Regions from separate parts of the Homo sapiens genome. Here region 2 is linked to region 1. Evidence: fine-mapped expression QTL. A gene starts in region 1. The other region holds a variant in brackets. All regions are shown on one strand. Distances are between the middles of the regions. Region 1 holds the start of CPB2-AS1 (CPB2 antisense RNA 1). Region 2 holds the start of CPB2 (carboxypeptidase B2).

Evidence for each region. PIP is the estimated chance that this variant, and not a neighbour inherited with it, causes the effect.
Region 2: its variant is fine-mapped to the expression of CPB2-AS1 in unexposed skin (GTEx, PIP 0.97).

The regions. Positions count from the first base shown.
Region 1 is chr13:46,046,026-46,055,966 of GRCh38, reverse strand. CPB2-AS1 (CPB2 antisense RNA 1) reads right to left here and starts at 3,119. Exons shown (of 3, transcript NR_046227.1): 1 at 3,002-3,119. ZC3H13 (zinc finger CCCH-type containing 13) reads left to right here and starts at 3,221. Exons shown (of 19, transcript NM_001330564.2): 1 at 3,221-3,563. It overlaps CPB2 (carboxypeptidase B2), which reads left to right. Exons shown (of 11, transcript NM_001872.5): 10 at 118-205; 11 at 2,169-2,781. The coding sequence ends at 2,353. RefSeq lists enhancers at 3,056-3,255, 3,266-3,435, 2,965-3,500, 3,501-4,037.
Region 2 is chr13:46,097,150-46,105,149 of GRCh38, reverse strand. It overlaps CPB2 (carboxypeptidase B2), which reads left to right and starts at 117. Exons shown (of 11, transcript NM_001872.5): 1 at 117-214. The coding sequence starts at 141. It overlaps CPB2-AS1 (CPB2 antisense RNA 1), which reads right to left. Exons shown (of 3, transcript NR_046227.1): 3 at 3,803-6,752. The variant G/T (reference allele first, on the strand shown) is at 3,571.

The sequences.
Region 1 (9,941 bases):
TAGATTTTCTACCTGTATACTTTGATTCAATTAATGTATGATTATTTTTTAGAAACTTCTACTTGTCATGTTTCAAAGCTGCACATTAACTGAAATTCTATATCTTGTTGCTTCCAGTCTCTAGTAGCCAGTGAAGCAGTTCGTGCTATTGAGAAAATTAGTAAAAATACCAGGTATACACATGGCCATGGCTCAGAAACCTTATGTAAGTATTTCTTCTTATGATCTTAGAGAACTTTGAGCTACTAAAGAAATCTGTGTGATCTGTTTTTCTTTGTGTATTTAATTTTTCTGAATTAAATAGGGTCACATGTAATACAACTGAATTGTAATAATTAGGAACAGAAGCATAATAGCTATGACAATGCTGAACAAAGCTATATTAATAAATGAGTTACTAAAAAGAAGCCAAAATCCTATTTAAGAAATCATATTTATCACAATCAAGTAGGAATTACAGAATTGGCATCATACTAGTTGAGTGAAGCAGAAAAGTTCATAAAACTTTTGCATGATTCCCAGGGCCACCATGGAAGGTTGTGCAGGTTGTACACTACACTAATCTAGGGCATGCCATTTGCATCAAGTGTTTTTTAGTGTTAGCCTGTTCCCAAGAGTATAGCTCATAACACATTACAGTTGATTGTCTTTAATATATATTACACACACAAAACTTGTGACAAACTCTTAACAAAAAGTTTTGATTAATTTTTGCTGAAAGATATTTAGTGAGTAACTCCTATCTACACACAGTGGGAGGACAGACTGATTTTGCCCTTTTGAAGTTTGAAGGGAGATGGGAAAAGAGGAGCATAAAATAAACCTGTAACCAGGCATCAGAAAACTACAGCCTGAAGGCCAAATCCAGGTTTTTCCTTTTTTTTTTTTTTTTAATGATTAGAAAAAAACAAAAAGAGGCCAGGTGCTGTGGCTCATGCCTGTAATACCAGCACTTTGGGAGGCTGAGGCAGGAGGATCACTTGAGGTCAGGAGTTCGAGACCAGACTGGCCAACATGGTGAAACCCTGTCTCTACTAAAAATACAAAAATTAGCTGGGCATGGTGGCAGGCGCCTGTAATGCCAGCTACTTGGTTGGCTAATGCATAAGAATTACTTGAACCTGGGAGGTGGGGGTGGCAATGAGCTGAGATTGTGCAACTGCACTCTAGCCTGGGTGACAGAGTGAGACTCCATCTCAAAAAAGGTCGAAACTGTATTTATCATGAACACTAAAATATGTACACATTTTAGTTAACATGCATTAAACTGTAACAAGTCTTCTGGCAATTGTAGCTTTCATGAGATGCTTCCCAAACTGTATTAGATAGATGCTAAAATTATAAATTAAAATTTTGGGTCAGACTTTGCCATAAACCTGGACTCAATTTAGCACCCCCCCAAAAAAAGTCAGATTATTCAATTAATGCGGTTGGAAAACCTAACAAGTTACCTAGAAAAAAATTAATTGGATTATTAACATGTCTTTCACCAAAGTAAATTCCAGGTACAGCATATATTTTCATATGAAAACCCTGCATAAACCAAGTTGAAATCTCAGTAAGGAGAAAAAATTCTTGTGAAAGGAGAAATGAATGAAAGGAGAAAAAAAGGTCTACATGCCAAACAAAGCTAATAACACTAATGTCGTTTTTATAAGCAATTGATAAAATGAACCAAGTAGACAAATGAGGAAGGACAATTGATAGGAAATATAAAGATAGCCAATAAATATGCCAAACAAATGTGCAACTCACTGATAATCAAAAAACATAAATTAAGACAGTTGGATATTATTTTTCGCCCATAAAATTATCAGAATTCATAATTCCTATTGATGGTATGGGAAGGGGAAATGGGCAAATTCATACCCTGCTTGTGGAAGTATAAATGAATTCAGTTCTTTTGACGTCCATTTGGGAACATGCCGTAATTGCAAAAAGTACAGAGCCTTAGACTAGCAAATCTATTCTAGGGAAGAATATTCTAAAGAGACAAAGAAGCAATTATGTATAAACAAGGGTACTCATTGTAAAGTTGTTTATATTAGTTAAAAACTGAAAAAAATCTAAAGGTATACAAACAAATAAACATTTAAATCAAACAATTCCCAGTTTGTAAATTAATTTGAAACGTCTGTATTTCAACAATTTCTTTCTTCTTCTTTTAGACCTAGCTCCTGGAGGTGGGGACGATTGGATCTATGATTTGGGCATCAAATATTCGTTTACAATTGAACTTCGAGATACGGGCACATACGGATTCTTGCTGCCGGAGCGTTACATCAAACCCACCTGTAGAGAAGCTTTTGCCGCTGTCTCTAAAATAGCTTGGCATGTCATTAGGAATGTTTAATGCCCCTGATTTTATCATTCTGCTTCCGTATTTTAATTTACTGATTCCAGCAAGACCAAATCATTGTATCAAATTATTTTTAAGTTTTATCCGTAGTTTTGATAAAAGATTTTCCTATTCCTTGGTTCTGTCAGAGAACCTAATAAGTGCTACTTTGCCATTAAGGCAGACTAGGGTTCATGTCTTTTTACCCTTTAAAAAAAATTGTAAAAGTCTAGTTACCTACTTTTTCTTTGATTTTCGACGTTTGACTAGCCATCTCAAGCAAGTTTCGACGTTTGACTAGCCATCTCAAGCAAGTTTAATCAATGATCATCTCACGCTGATCATTGGATCCTACTCAACAAAAGGAAGGGTGGTCAGAAGTACATTAAAGATTTCTGCTCCAAATTTTCAATAAATTTCTGCTTGTGCCTTTAGAAATACAACCATGCATTCCGTTTGCTCCACGGTAATTAGGCGATGGCCCAGAAAGGGGAGGGGTGTCAAAAACGACAAACATAGCCTCTCATTCCAGCTCAGCTGCTCAATAAACACTGTTGAACGAATGAATGAGTGGCTCTAGGTACTGTCAACAAATGCCGCATTTTGCGCATTTACAACAGCTGTTTATGGTAAGGAATTATGTAATAAAAAGAGAAAACTCACTTAAATTCACTTTTAATTGGGAATTTTAGTTCTCCCGGGCTCCCAGTTTCCTTTCCTAGGATCTCTCACAGAGCACAGATTCGATTTCCAAGTCCCGCCGCACTCTTACCGCTCGCATGGAACCTTACGCCTAGAGGGCGTGTCCACGAAGGGTGGTGTCTGCGCACTGACGACTAATCTGACGGCCGGAAGCTGCCTGGGTCTACAGAGGAACAGGGCAAACCTCTGACTTCCGGCGGCATTTTGAGGCGGTCCTCCTAGCGGCCTGGTAGTGTTTTTGTTGCCTTTTCTTAATCTACAATCTCTTCGTTATTTTTCTTCCTGCGACCCAGTTTCGCTTGACCCTGGAGAGGCGGCGGGCGGGTTGGTTCTGCTTCTCAGCCATCCCGGGGGCTCCTCGCTAGCCAAGAGCCGGTTCCCGGGAGCCGCGCGCGCATCGCTTTCTCCTCGTCGTCGTCCTCCTGGGTCCAGGCGCGGGGACAGAGTCGCCTCCCCCGCTCCTCGGAGCGGCGGCGGCGGTGGTGCCTCCGGACTGCACTTGCGAAGGGAGCTTGGGGAGGAAGTAAGCGTTCTGTGAATTGGTGTGGGTATCTGGGGAAGGCATTGAGCGGACCCGTAATGCGGAGGCCCGGGTTACCCCCCCCCGTCTTTGCTTGAGTCACTGGGATTTTGAGCTTTCCTTGAGCATCCCACCCTTAACTCTGCAATAGCCCCCTGTGCTCAGGCGTAATTTCTCACTCTGATTATGATTCTGGCATTTGTCTAAGGGCGATAAGTAGACTCAGACAATAGGCTGTACCCCTCGTTACCATTTGATGTAAGCACGGGAACCCTTGTATGGTGTTCGTATTTGTGTGCGATGGAAGGGTGCAGCAATTTGGGCTTAAATTTAGAATCTTCCTCTATACTCATTCCAGATCTGTTAGAGAAAAACATCTTACTTGTGATTGGTCTTGTTTTTTTTTTTTTCCCTCAGCAGTGATAACGATTTAGGTCCTGGGAATTGAGTGCTACTTTATCTTCACAAGCCTTAGGTAGGTAGTTTTGGCAACTGTCAGAAACGGGGGAAAGTGGAATAGAAAGAAGAGAGTCTGTTTGGCGGCATTATCTCTCTGTAATAGGCTAACGCAATTTATGTGGTTTGAAAATTATTTAGAGTTGATAATACTTGAATTATGTTGGTAAGATGTTGTTTGTGAAGGGTAGTCTTAAGGTATTTGGTTATACTATGGGGCTTTCAGGTAATTCGAACTACTTTGAAAATTATGGGAGTATGAAGTCTCTTAAGATTTTTGGATTTTTAAAGTAGTTTTAAAAATTTGGAAAACATCTTTACACCTCAAGTTTTCGAAGTCCGCGATACCGTTGGAGAATAAATACTTATGCAGTTCAGTCTATGGGTATATGGTGCCAGTTAGCGGGGTCTAGTTCTGTAACATTTGAAATTACTGGCTTTAGTACAATATATTGGAGCGTTTTGTGAATACAATCTATAGATTTTCAAATAATTTTTATTTTCTTAATGAACTATTTAGATTATAACAGATGACAGTTTCAACTAGAGACTAGCAAAGTTGATGCAAGCTTGTAACAATTGCGGCTTTAAAAATAGTTGCACTCTGAAACTAAGGCTTTCACTCTGTGCATCTGGTAGGATTCAGTTTTATCAAATGTATGCCTCTTACTGGCTTCCTGATTACTGGTCATTCTAAATGAACATTGCATATTTTGAGATTTGCAAGCTTATGTGATTTTCATATTTGTAATATGAATTTAACATACTAAAAATCCAGCAAGTGGATGGTATCTTAACATCTTTACAAATTATTAAAATTGTAATATCATCAGTATTTATAATATGCATTGGCATTTACATAGAGGAAACACATTGTTTAACTTAAATTTACTTAGAGAGTTGGTTTTCAGTGGATGATAGTCTTCCTCACCTCCTCATCTCTCCCAACTCCATCTCATATAGAGGTGGAGCTATTTCTCCAGCTGTTAGTAGTAGTTGAAGCATTAACTGCTGTTGATATAGAAAGAGTCTTTTATTCTTTTTTTTTTGTATTTTTGTATGATGCAGTTCTTTTTACTTCACTTTAGAGTAGCTACCAGCATGGGATGTTTTCTGTGCACAGTCTTTTTAACAAATTGTTTTTTCTGCATAGTACTGCAGTGTTGCTTTGCTAATTCCTATGTAGTCAGCTTAGTTCTGTCAGTTGTATTTGGAATTTAGTTTGGAATTGTTTTAGCATTAAATTTACGGAAGCAATCTGAAAGTTTGTTTTAGAAAGTTCTTTTTAAAAAATTCTCTCAAACTATGCATCAAATAAAGTTAATTTTTCTTTCTAAAAATATGAAGTATAAATGTGAAGATACCTTATTTTTAGTATCACCTTTTTAATCTTAGAAATTCAGAGTATAGGGATTTATCCTACTAGTTAGTACATTCATGTAGTTTTAATTGCCTAATTGTTTGAAATTTCCCTAATATTATGCCGCTACTCATCCGGATTAAAGTGTTATGCTTTCACTTATGCTTCCAGTAGATGAGACCTGGAAAAGATAATTAATTATGGATTGAAGTGAAGATACTAGAACGCATATGTGTTTATTGACAAGATTTTATTAATTGAGCTTCTGGAGTCATTATTCAAAAAGAGACCCTTTTGTATGCTTCTCCTTTCTCAGCCATAATTATAATGTGAACCTTCTGAGTACAGTGTTATTCTAAGTTTCTCGGGGCAAGGGAGCAGTTCCCATTTAAGACCCTCTTTTGTTGTGTCTTTATTAATAGACTCAAACTTTGTGTCCCGGATTTTCTTTTTCTTTTTCCATTTTCTTTTTTAATTGAAAAGAGATTATAAAGACTTCAGATATTCATTTGCTCTGCAAATGGAGAGGAGAAATAGGAAAATAACGAAATAGGCTTTCACTAGTGCCACTCTGTCTTTGATAATGCTCGTGTTTGAGAAAGACTTGATGATGTGGGTGGAAGTGTGATGGCAACTTAAACCAAATAATAATTTGAAAACAAAAATGGAGGAAAACCTTCATAGAAGAGTAAATTAGTAAGTTATTGGTATGACCTTGATTTCTATTCTCTATGATAGGAAAGACTTTAGTATTTACATTTTTATCTTATGGTTTCTAATTTTTCTCATATACTTTGAAGCATTTACTTGTCATGTTCAGCCTGTTCATACATAATTTGAAAAAGTTTCCCGCCCCGAAAATCTACATTTTAACTGTTGTGGTGTTCATTTTCCTTTACGGGCCCAAAGTTTTAAATAGGATTGAAAATTCTAATTGTCACATTAGTTGGTAACATTTAGTTTTAATATATGAAAAAGGAAATGTTTTTCTGCTGTATTGTAGATAGTGTGTATATTTTTAGATAAATGGGATTTTTAAAGTTATATATTGTGTTCTTTACAAGCATGAAGCATTTTGTTTATTCAAATTCATGAATGTCTCATTAGTAATATTTAAGTAACATTTTATTGTTGACTACTTGTGGAAGTTTTTACATGGATGATCAGAAGAATTTTTTCAGTTAGAAATCTTCAGTTTCTGCTTTTTTCTTTTTTCACCAGACGTTTTACACACACACATATATATATCACATTAAAGAACATTTTATTAAGAATATGTGTGTGTGTATTATTGTTGTCATTATTCTTGTTTTAAATGTTCAGTCCAGGACCTTGCTGTAACCCAGACCGCATACTCAGATGCTGTATTACTTTAGGACAAAGTATGGTACTCTTGGAGTCTGAGAAAAAGTAGAGTACATCTTTTTTTTTTTTTTTTTTGAGACGGAGTCTCCCTCTGTTGCCAGGTTGGAGTGCAGTGGCGCGATCTCGGCTCACTGCAACCTCCACCTCCCGGGTTCAAGCGATTCTCCTGCCTCAGCTTCCCGAGTAGCTGGGATTACAGGCGTGCACCGCCACACCCAGCTAATTTTTGTATTTTTAGTAGAGACGGGGTTTCACCATGTTGGCCAGGATGGTCTCGATCTGTTGGCCAGGATGGTCTCAATCTCTTGACCTCGTGATCCGCCTGCCTTGGCCTCCCAAAGTGCTGGGATTACAGGCGTGAGTCACTGCGCTTGGCCACATTTTTACTTAATTTCATTTCTTCGCTAAATTGGGAGACTCAGTACAGTAGTAGCTGCAAGTGAAATTCCTGGGATAATTACTATGTAGGTGAATCTTGAATAGTTCTTGATGTCACTGGTAAAAGCAATTTTGTCTCTGTGGAAAGAATATGGGCGTAGGGTGAGGGAGGTGAGGAGGTGGATCATTAGTCTTCACTTGATTGTCTTTCATAGCAAGTCCAACCCTTGAAATCTTCAAAGTTTTTTTTTTTTTTTTTTTTTTTTTGAGGCGGAGTCTCACTCTGTCACCCAGGCTGGAGTGCAGTGGCGCAATCTCGGCTCACTGCAAGCTCCGCCTCCCGGGTTCACGCCATTCTCCCGCCTCAGCCTCCCGAGTAGCTGGGACTACAGGCGCCTGCCACCACGCCCGGCTAATTTTGTTTTTGTATTTTTAGTAGAGACAGGGTTTCACCATGTTAGCCAGCATGGTCTCGATCTCCTGACTTCGTGATCCGCCCGCCTCGGCCTCCCAAAGTGCTGGGATTACAGGCGTGAGCCACCGCGCCCGGCGAAATCTTCAAAGTTTGCCTTAGGGAGTCTAGGATTGGAGAGAAGCTCTCAGACCAGCAAAGCAATAGGTCAAGGGAGGAGAGTAGTGCGAATCAGGCAACAGAGGACAGACCAGAAAAAGAAACTGTAGAGTTAATACCTGGAACCCTCAAAAAGTAAAAAGAAAGGAGATGATAGATGACCAATGTTTTAAGTATAATAAGTACGATAATAAATAGCCTGTCGTCCTAACTGGAAACCATTACCATTGAATTTTTTGAAGGAGACTGAGCTGGGAGTGGAGGCATGTTGGGGGTAGTAGAGATGTTGGGGGCAGAACTAACTCATTTCCAGTGACAGTGGAGGGAAAAATAAAAAATTAGTGTTAGTCCACTTGAGGCAGTGTGGTGGGATGGTTGTGCCTGTTTTCTAAGTTCTACATAACTAGCAAATAAGGAAATTTTGGAACCTATTCAATTTTGTTTATTAAGAAATGTTTTAAAAATTGAATTATTGGTTGAGGATTACTCTATATTTGTATATTAATGTAGCAATATATAATGAAACTTTATGTTTTTCTCAAACTTCTTATACATTGTGATACATTTACTTATTATTGAATCATGCTTGGATATATATTGTTAAAAAAGTTTTTCTCAAAGCTCTACATTTTCTAGATCTTTCTCAGCTCCACTTCTCTTAGCTTTCAGTTTTTTCGTGCTCAGTAAATCAAATAGACATAGGAAATTTTACCAGCTTCTCCTCCGTATGTTCACATTTCAGCTGAGAATGAGTCTAAGAAAAATTAAATCAAAGATTATCTTATAATGCTAACACCAGTATGTAGAATTGGTGTGTAGTTCCTTACTTGGAGAACAATTAATATTTAATTGATTTTGTGTTGCAGCAAATTATTGTTTATGTGATGCTCTCCACTGGTTCTTAAATTTATAATTACTGTGAAGTAATTCTGTTTTTAAAATCACTAAAAATTAATTGCTATTATATCAAAAGAATTATTACATTTTATATTGATAAAAATATAGATTTTCCAATTTAAAATCACCATATATTATTTCATATTTTCCTTCCTTGATGCACCATCTTTTATTTATCAAATGTTGTTCTTAGTCTTTGGATTCTTTTAAAAGTGTGACCTGAAGTACCTCATTGAACCAAACACTGTTTATAATTTTTTATTGCTGTTTCAATTAGGTACTACCACGATTTAATTTCCTTTAAAGTGATATGTCTTTACTTTGAAACCACATTAAAGATTTGTGATCTTTATAGAGACTAAATGAAACTTTTTTAGCTGCTGTGGTTCATTCTAGTAACTTTTGATGATTGATAAGATTTCAACTAATATTTAGTTTGTATAAAGCGGGATATAGTATGGTGTTTTTTTTCCTTCCCCTTATGAGGCAGTTTCTACCCTCTTCCCACAGTAGTGTATGCTCTGGATTGTATCTTGGTCTAGAATTTAATATTGTTTTCTAATGTCATAATATACTGTCATTATCTGATACTTGCAAATCTAGTTGAATTACCCAATTATGTCATTGGATTAGATTTTTACTATAGTTTCAGTTTTTGAATGTTTTATTTACATACATATATATATATAGAGAGAGTTTTTTTGTTTTTTTTGAGATGGAGTCTCGCTTTGTCGCCCAGGCTGGAGTGCGGTGGTGTGATCTCGGCTCACTGCAAGCTCTGCCTCCTGGGTTCATGCTATTCTCCTGCCTCAGCCTCCAGAGTAGCTGGGACTACAGGCGCCCGCCACCATGCCCAGCTAATTTTTTTTTTTTTTTTGTATTTTTAGTAGAGACGGAGTTTTGCCATGTTAGCCAGGATGGTCTCGATCTCCTGACCTCATGATCCGCCCGCCTCGGCCTCCCAAAGTGCTGGGATTACAGGCACGAGCCACTGTGCCTGGCCCTTAAAAAATATTTTTATGTTTACATCAAATCTAACAGAGCTTAAACGTAAAATAAAATAAAAATATTTTTACAATTTGCCTTTTTTGTTATTACTAATAATGGTAAAATAGTCTGATAATTACTTTTAACACCTTTGAATTTTATGTCAGTGTAGTATAGATTATAGAAACACCTCGACTTTTTCTAGTTCTACAGTCTGTCCTGTTTTGAAAGTTGTTTCTATCAACATTGAGTTTTGTTTTGTTTTGTTTTTGTGTTACTGGAAAATAAATATGCTTGATCAGATTGTTTTGACTTCTGTCAGGCAAAGAAAATACTAAAATATCATTCATTTTTCTCAACCTGATTT
Region 2 (8,000 bases), 50 kb before region 1:
AAGCTAAGTTGATTGACCCACAGGAACAAGAGGGAACATGCCGTTATATTTTAACCAGTGTGTAAAGAAGGCTGTTATGCAATCAATGATCTGGGTTTTTCTCTTCAGAGAAATTTGTTGTACAGAAAATTGCTGTTGGGATGAAGCTTTGCAGCCTTGCAGTCCTTGTACCCATTGTTCTCTTCTGTGAGCAGCATGTCTTCGCGTTTCAGAGGTAACCCAATAGAATCTTAGACTGTGGTGGGCCACTCTCCTCACTTGTTTGCCTCATGTCGTGTCAAGTCAGTGCACTGAGCTGGTGGACAAAATGGTAAACTTTGAAGGCCAGGTCTTTCAGAACTTTCCAAGTTGCCCTGACAAATAAGTAGACTTTAGCACAATGGGCTATCACTAAAGACAGGGTCTTTTTTCTTTCCTGGCTCTGGTTTTATTATTGGGAGAACCTTGGATGATACGCATATCCAGTGACTATGGAGATTCAAGAAATTAAATCTTTTATAAACGTAACTATTTATACTCTAACTTGATGTATGATTCATATTCTTCCTGTCTTCACATAAAAAAAGTTAACTATGGATCATTTATTTTCCCCTTGTACATGGAACATAGGAGGAAGAAGAGGGTGAAGTGTTAAATAGGAGGTTTGGATCATGCATGATTATTTAGCATGGAATATGAAAGGAAGAAGAGTTGTGTGATAAAGAACTATTATCTGATTCTTATTTTGCTTAGTAGATTCCCTTAGGATAAACTATCTAGAAGAACACAAATGAATTCATGCTATAGCACATGCAATGCATGGAGAAAATAGTTCCAGGGTATATGTAATGTAATTTATTAAGTAGTCAATTTTTAGGCTTTAAAACATTGATATTGTTTCCTTTGGAATTATCTTATTTTTTCCCCTTTGTTTTGGTTCTATGATCGCTTTCTCCTCCAATTATCTTTGAGACAGATCCCTCTCCTCATGTTAGTAAATGACAAAGAAAGAAGAGACATAGGGCAAAGGAATATACCAGTGACAAGGAACATTCTACCACCAAAAAAATGTTCACGGTCATAAATAACCATAGGACAATGGTTTGGAAAATAGATCTTGACTTGTGAGCCTGAAGCTGTGTTTGTACATGATCACTGAACTGATTATAGTTGATTGATCTTCTTTTGTTCAACATGATTGTCGAATGTCGAGCAACAAATTCTATCATAAAATGATATTATTTTTGTTATTTAATTGACGTGGGGGTCAAGATTGCTGCAATGATCAGTGACTTATGTCTTTCTCTGTATTTTATCGGTGAATCATATGGTCAGGATTTCTAAGGTTCTTGCTAGTTCTAATATTCCATAACTTGATAATTGGCTTCAGTTAAGGGAAAGGGGGAGAAGAGAAAAATTGGTATCAACATGTCCAACTTGGCTACTGTACACAGTGGCAGTACCATTGACAGTTAGGGGAAAGGGAGGAAACCTCTGCTTATTTAGTGCCTGTGTTTGTGCCAGGCACTGAACTAGTCACTTAGAAATGTTATCTCTTTAAATGCATAAAATCCTACATGCTAGGAATCTTTACTGACATTTTACAAAGGAGGAAACTGAGCCTCAGGAAGAATAAATAATTGGCCCAAGATCAAACAGTAAATGTAGAGCTTGGATTCAAACCCACTTTAGCCTCATTTCAACTCCATGCACTGGACAGCATTGCCTCCATAAAATCTGGAAATTAGGAAGAGAGCCAGTTTGAAGGAAGGTCAGATTTAGTCAAAGGGAGTTGCAGGCAGCAGTTGGTTTGGAAAGTAGCTTGGAAGAGAGGTTCGGGATTAGAGGTTCAGTCTCATGGTTCTCACCCACTAGCAGATCTAATCATGGCCTTGGCGTCAGCCCAGTGCAATTATCCTCAGCTGGTTGTTGCAGAGGTTGGCGGGCAGGTGGGCTCACTGCAGACCGCCATCTTGATCGTAGAGTAACCCAAACTCTTGGATAGGATAATCAATAGCAAAACACACTAAAAGCTTTAGCACATCTCTTCAAATGAGTACGTGTATAGCAGCTTAGTGACACTAAATATAACGCAAATAGAAGAAGTAGCCAACAATAAAATAGTAAAAAAATGAGTGAGAACATATCTTCATGCATGGGCTTTGTTACTATTTGTTGCTTCAGCTTATACTCTGAAATCTGACTGATACTTATGCTTGAAAAAAGGAATGAGAATGTGACTATATTTTAACCAAAGAATATCACATTAAAAATATTTAATACTTTTGCATACTGCGAGGGTCCCTTTGCAGAGGAGAGGAGGTAGGAGGACCTCAGTATTGTAGACAGATGAATATCTGAATCCTGGTTCCCATCCCTTCACTGGAAATAACATTGCAAACTACTCTTTCTGTGAGTAAAAATAAATTTTTTTACCAAATGTTTCTGTGCTCCACTTTTCCAGGAATGGCCTATTCCTGAAGCTAAAAAGGAAATCTAATTTCATTCAGGGCAACAGACTTTGATAAATTGTTGCTGGGGTTCAGAATATCAACCCTTCTAAAAAAAAAAAAAAAAACTAACAGTCTGGCTTTTTCTTAAAGCTGTTCTTTGTTTTTTTTTTTTTTTTTGTCATAATCATTTTCCTACTAACAGTTTTTATTCATGCAGTCTCTTAGTGGCTGATTTGTAGGTTCATTTTGATAAATTTCATCAGTGAAATGCCCTGGAACAACAACAAGTTTTAAAGGCATAAATATCATATGCCAAAGGGAAAGGCAGCCAAAAAATCATGACTCCATATTCATTTGCTTTTAAAAGCCAAACACTATAAAGGGTAAAAATAAAATACTAGCAAGAATCTTGTAAACAGAATCAGTAATTGTATTGTGCAGTGATTACCTAAATGCAGCCTGCCAGCCCAGACTATTTGGAAAGAGGAAGTAAGAGACACTAGGAAGAAGACTTAGGAATTAGAGAGTGGAGGAGGGTTGAGGATAAAGGGCTTCTGAATTATTAATAGACCACAGGAAGTGTTCCTCTGTTGACTTCACATACTGTTTGGGTACCTGGAGACCAGTTTACTCTCTTTCACTTTGTTCCTACTGATGTATTGTTTTCATCTCAAAGAACAGGCCACCAGTGGCCTTAAAACACTGTAATGTGTGCAACAAAATTGCAGCCTTGGGCTATGTTCCATTGTTCAGAGACATCTTGCCAGCTTTTTAAATTCAAAATAATCTTTCAGAATGGTGAAAGTGTGAACCCTCCCCTGTAAACCATAGCAGGGGATACACCCCAATGAACATAATGACGTTCTCAGAAGGGAAGGAACAGAGGAAGTGTTGCATAGGTATTAAAAGCTCAGGATCTGGATTCGAGCCCCAGATCTGCTACTTATCACCCATGCAGACTTGGGCAATTTGCTCGTCCCCTTTCAGCCTTTACTTTTTTTTGTAAAGTGACCTGTTACTTCACTGTGCTTGTACTTCTCATTCGATTTTTGGTGCAAGGCTGTTCTTTTTTCTCAAGTGGTTATTGTGTAAGTGCTATAATCGTATCATTCAGAGACGCAGTTGAAACACAGCTTTA[G/T]TTTTTGTCTCCCATTGCCCCATGACATTTTGCGTAGTGGGGTTATCTATCACTGCTCTCGCATGGAAAGTTAGAAAATTTCAAGGCTTTTTAGCCTGCTTTTAAGTGACAGTCCTTGGGTCCTGCTAAAAATACAAATAGCCTCAATTTAGAAATTAGAATGTCACCTCCAACCAAGGTATTGTTCAAATATCCCCATCTTTGTTGTTAAAAGAAAATCTTTAAAAGAATTATATTTAGCAAAATTTAATTGAACAAAGAACAATTTTCTAATCAAGTAACCCTCAAAAACGAAAGAAGTTCAGAGAGTTCTGCTCAGCAAAGTGGGCAGGCAGCACTTATAAACAGCAAATGGAAATGAGGTCCAGAAGCAGCTTGAGTAGTTACAGGTGAGCAGTTGTCTTACTGGGCATAGGCTGATCAGTTGGCCACATGGGATTGGCTGTAGCTTGGCTGCTGTGATTGGCTGAGACTCACCTCGTTAGTACAAAAAAAAAATACTCCTAAGTTAGGTTGCAGTTTGTTATGTAGCGACTCAAGTTACGAGGCATCCTCAGACCAAATTTAGTTTAATTTAACATTATTTATAGGAAAACAACTGCCTCACCTCTTCCACAAACACACCTTACTCTTTTTCTTGTTAGTCTTTTTCTCGAGTTCTAACTTCTTAGAGTTGTGTGAGACATCTTTATTGGGGAAGCCTCTGGACCAGGACAGATGCTTCTTTGTCTAGGTTTTCACTTGCGACTCCATCCTTCCCCGCTAAGAGTCTTGCTTCTACCTCTGGGCTCTTGTTGTTGAGAACCTTCCATCCCTTTAGGTGGCCCTATTGGATGGCATCTAACATTAAGTGTTTCTTTTCATTTTAACTACTACTATCTAGCCAACTAGAGACCAGCCACATGCAGGTTTAGCTTTATCAGGAGAAGCCAGGCACCAGTCTTTGTGTCTGTAAATTTGAGGAAACATCCAACTCTCTCATTATCTCCTGGAAGTCCCCCTACTAGGCTGAGGTAAGGGGAGTGCACCCCGAAACTTCATCCCTTTGGGAGGGTGGTGACTTACAGAACCATAAAAACATGCTAAAAAAAAAAATTCACAAATCCTCTCCCTCTTTCCACTCTGACAGCTTTTTATATAGCCTGTTTATGACTAAGTAAGGGGAAGCAGTCATGAAACCAGTTTCCAAAAATAGAGTGATCTGACTGACCCTCATCCCATTACCTAACTCTGTTGTGTTAGCACTTTGCTCAAATTCTGCATAAGAAGAGTCTGTTCACTACAAGCTGAACTTGGACATATCAATAAATTTTTGGTGAATTTTTAACTTCATAATTTTACTCACTATTTCCTAACTTATTTTTTGAATTTCCTTTATTTTTTCTTCTTAAGAGGTCTCATTTGGATAACATACATTTTTACCTTTATATTTTCTTTCTTTCTCTGCTTGTTGACTAATTTTTATACTTTTCTCCTTCTTTAATACATTAGGTTTTTTTTTAATTTAATACTGCCCACTCAACATTTTTTGTTCATTATTTTCTTTCTTTCTTTTGAGACCTAGTCATGCTCTCTTACCCAGGCTGGAGTCCAGTGGTGTGATTTTGGCTCACTGTAACCTCCACCTCGTGGGTTCAAGTGATTCTCGTGCTTCAGCCTTCTGAGTAGCTGGGACTACAGGTGTGAGCTACTATGCCACGCTTATTTTTGTATTTTTAGTAAAGACAGGGTTTCACCATGTTGGTCAGGCTGGTCTTGAACTCCTGACCTCAGGTGATCCACCCACCTCAGCCTCCCAAAGTGCTGGGATTACAGGCGTGAGCCACTGTGCCTGGCCCATTATTTTCAATATAATAGATTATCTACCATACTGCCTTGTGAGGATTAAATAAGAATACCTGTAAAGCACTTAGCACAATATCCAAGTTACTAAATATCAGTAAAAAAGAAGAAAAGTCCCCCCAGACATATTATGCTCTAGTCAACACAAGACTTCCTCTACATGGACTTGAAATTCAGCATCTCTTTAGATAATGAAGAGCTCATTGCTTGATAAGGTGTCCTATCTCATGGTTAGCTCAAATTGTTAGAAGTTCACACTGAAATTACAGTGATTTAATGATATGAACCTCCACTTCTCTATACTTTACATGAAAAGGAAGCTTTGAGTTTGCCACATCTTTTGCTACAACTCCCAAAATCATGCCCAACCAACTTTTAAGTAAGGGCCACAATCTTGACCCCAGCATTTAAGACCCTTAACAATCAGGTCCTACCCTGCCATTCGTCCTGGCTTTATTTCCTGGTATATCTCTATATAGGCCCCATATTTCTGCCCAGCTGGATCACTTCTCCTTCCTTGAGCTCTGATTTTACTTTTCTACTTGTGCACCTGCACTTATGATGTTTCATCTCCAATTCGTTTAGCAAAATTCTGCCTATGTTAGTCTTATACCATCTCATCTTCCCTTCACCTATTGAATCCTAGTATCTCAGAAGTCCAACTCAGAATATCTCCATTCTCTGACTACCTAAGTCAAAAATGATACCTGACTTTGTATTCCTGTAGCAGAATATTTATACCACTCGCATTGTACTTTTAGTGTTTTATCTCACAGAATAGGCATTTGTATCAGTTGCAGGTTAGTTTCCCCAGGAAACAGACTCCTGAGATGAAGATTGCATGGAGGAAGTTTACTGGAAAGGAATCTCAGGATCAGCATCTGTGGAGGAATGAAGGAAGAAGGCTTGGGCAGAGGAGAAACTGACCTGTGATGTAATCACAACTATGGCCTCACCTGTTCCTGTGGAGAGCCTTGAGGCTGGGTTGGCCTGGTAAAGTTGTCCCAAACTGGGGCAAGCAGGCATGCCTTTGTAACCCCTGTTTATTAGTCACTGGGTGTGGATTGTACCTTGGAGGAGGCATCATGTTGGGCAGCACAGCTCTCTTCAGGCAAGGGCAAGTCCTAGAAAGGGACTCAGGTGAGAATATCAGCTGCCAACCCTCCCAGAAGCTGAGGAGACAAAGAAGCTGAGGAAATAAGAGTTCATCCCTGGATGGAGATCTAGGCAGCAAAACGTGACATCTACTACAGTCCAACCCTTTGTGTCACTCAGGTCAATTTTCTTCATAAAATAAGCTTTGAGATCAACTCTTCTGGGGTTTTGCTTGGTCCCTCTTCCTAAAGGAAATATACAAGAGGAACGTTAGTGAAATAAACTACAACCTTCACAGCTACAGCTAGTCTCGAGGCCATAACCAATACTTGTCATTCCTCTTCTCCCCTACCCGTTCTGTTTTCCCCAAAGAGGTGCCCTTTGCTAGCACCTCTTCTAATCTAGGTGGTTTACCTGGTGAGACAACCCAGACCCTCAATCCTCAAGGATCTGAGTCATAATCACTGGGCCCTCTTGGGCCATGGCTGCTGCAATTGTCTGTATACATCAAATTTGGACAAGGGAATATTACAGAACGCCTAAGCTGGATTCCAAACATATTCTTCCCTGCCACATTCAGTATGTAAGTGCAGCCCTCAATGTCCTTCTGATTATTGGAGTCAATTACCCTTCCTGCATGGCTAGAAAACCCATGGTAACTCCTCGCCTTCCTGATAATCAATCAGCATGAGGAAACTGAAATGACTGGACAGTAACAACAGCTTTCAGTTTAAAGGAACTCTTCCTATGCTCTCTGGAAACCGGAATTTTTATAAGTACAGAGTCCATATTTGTAGATTTAAAGTACTAATTCTCCGAGTGGGTTACTTGGAGTGACGGTATATGGAAACACTCCAACTTGGTTCCTGGAACCATGTATACTACCTAGTAGGGACACAGCACCACATGAGTATTGATTTAAAGTGTGCACTGGAGGATGTTGCCTTCCAAGTTAGCACCTCAATTGATCCTTCAACAAACCATTTTTATTTCAGTAACAGGATAGCAGCAACTAGGTATTCTGGTATGTGAGAGGCTAAGTGGATTCCATGGTAATGGACCCATTTCTGCAATTCCCTTGTTGTAAAGTGGAGCCCATGATCTGATAGGATGTTATGTGAGATGTTTTATCAGTGGTCAAACACTCCGTAAGCCCTTGTATGGTGATGCTTGCCTGAGGCCCTACAGGCAGGCGAGATAAACCCATACCCAGAGTGGAAGAGGACAGATGTAGTCAACTTACCACCCAGTGACTAGCTGGTCTCTATGAGGAATGGTGCTGATTCCGGGGCTCAACTTTGGTCTCCGTTGCTGGCAAGTTAGACATGGGGCAGCAACAGTAGCTAGATCAGCCTTAATGAGAGGAGTCCGTGCTGCTGGAGCCATGCACACTTCATCTCTGCCATCAGGCTATTCTGTTCTAGTGCCTTTTGTGCCAGCATTGGGGTGGCTGTTGACACAGGCTGACTGACATCAACTGGCTGAGTCATTTG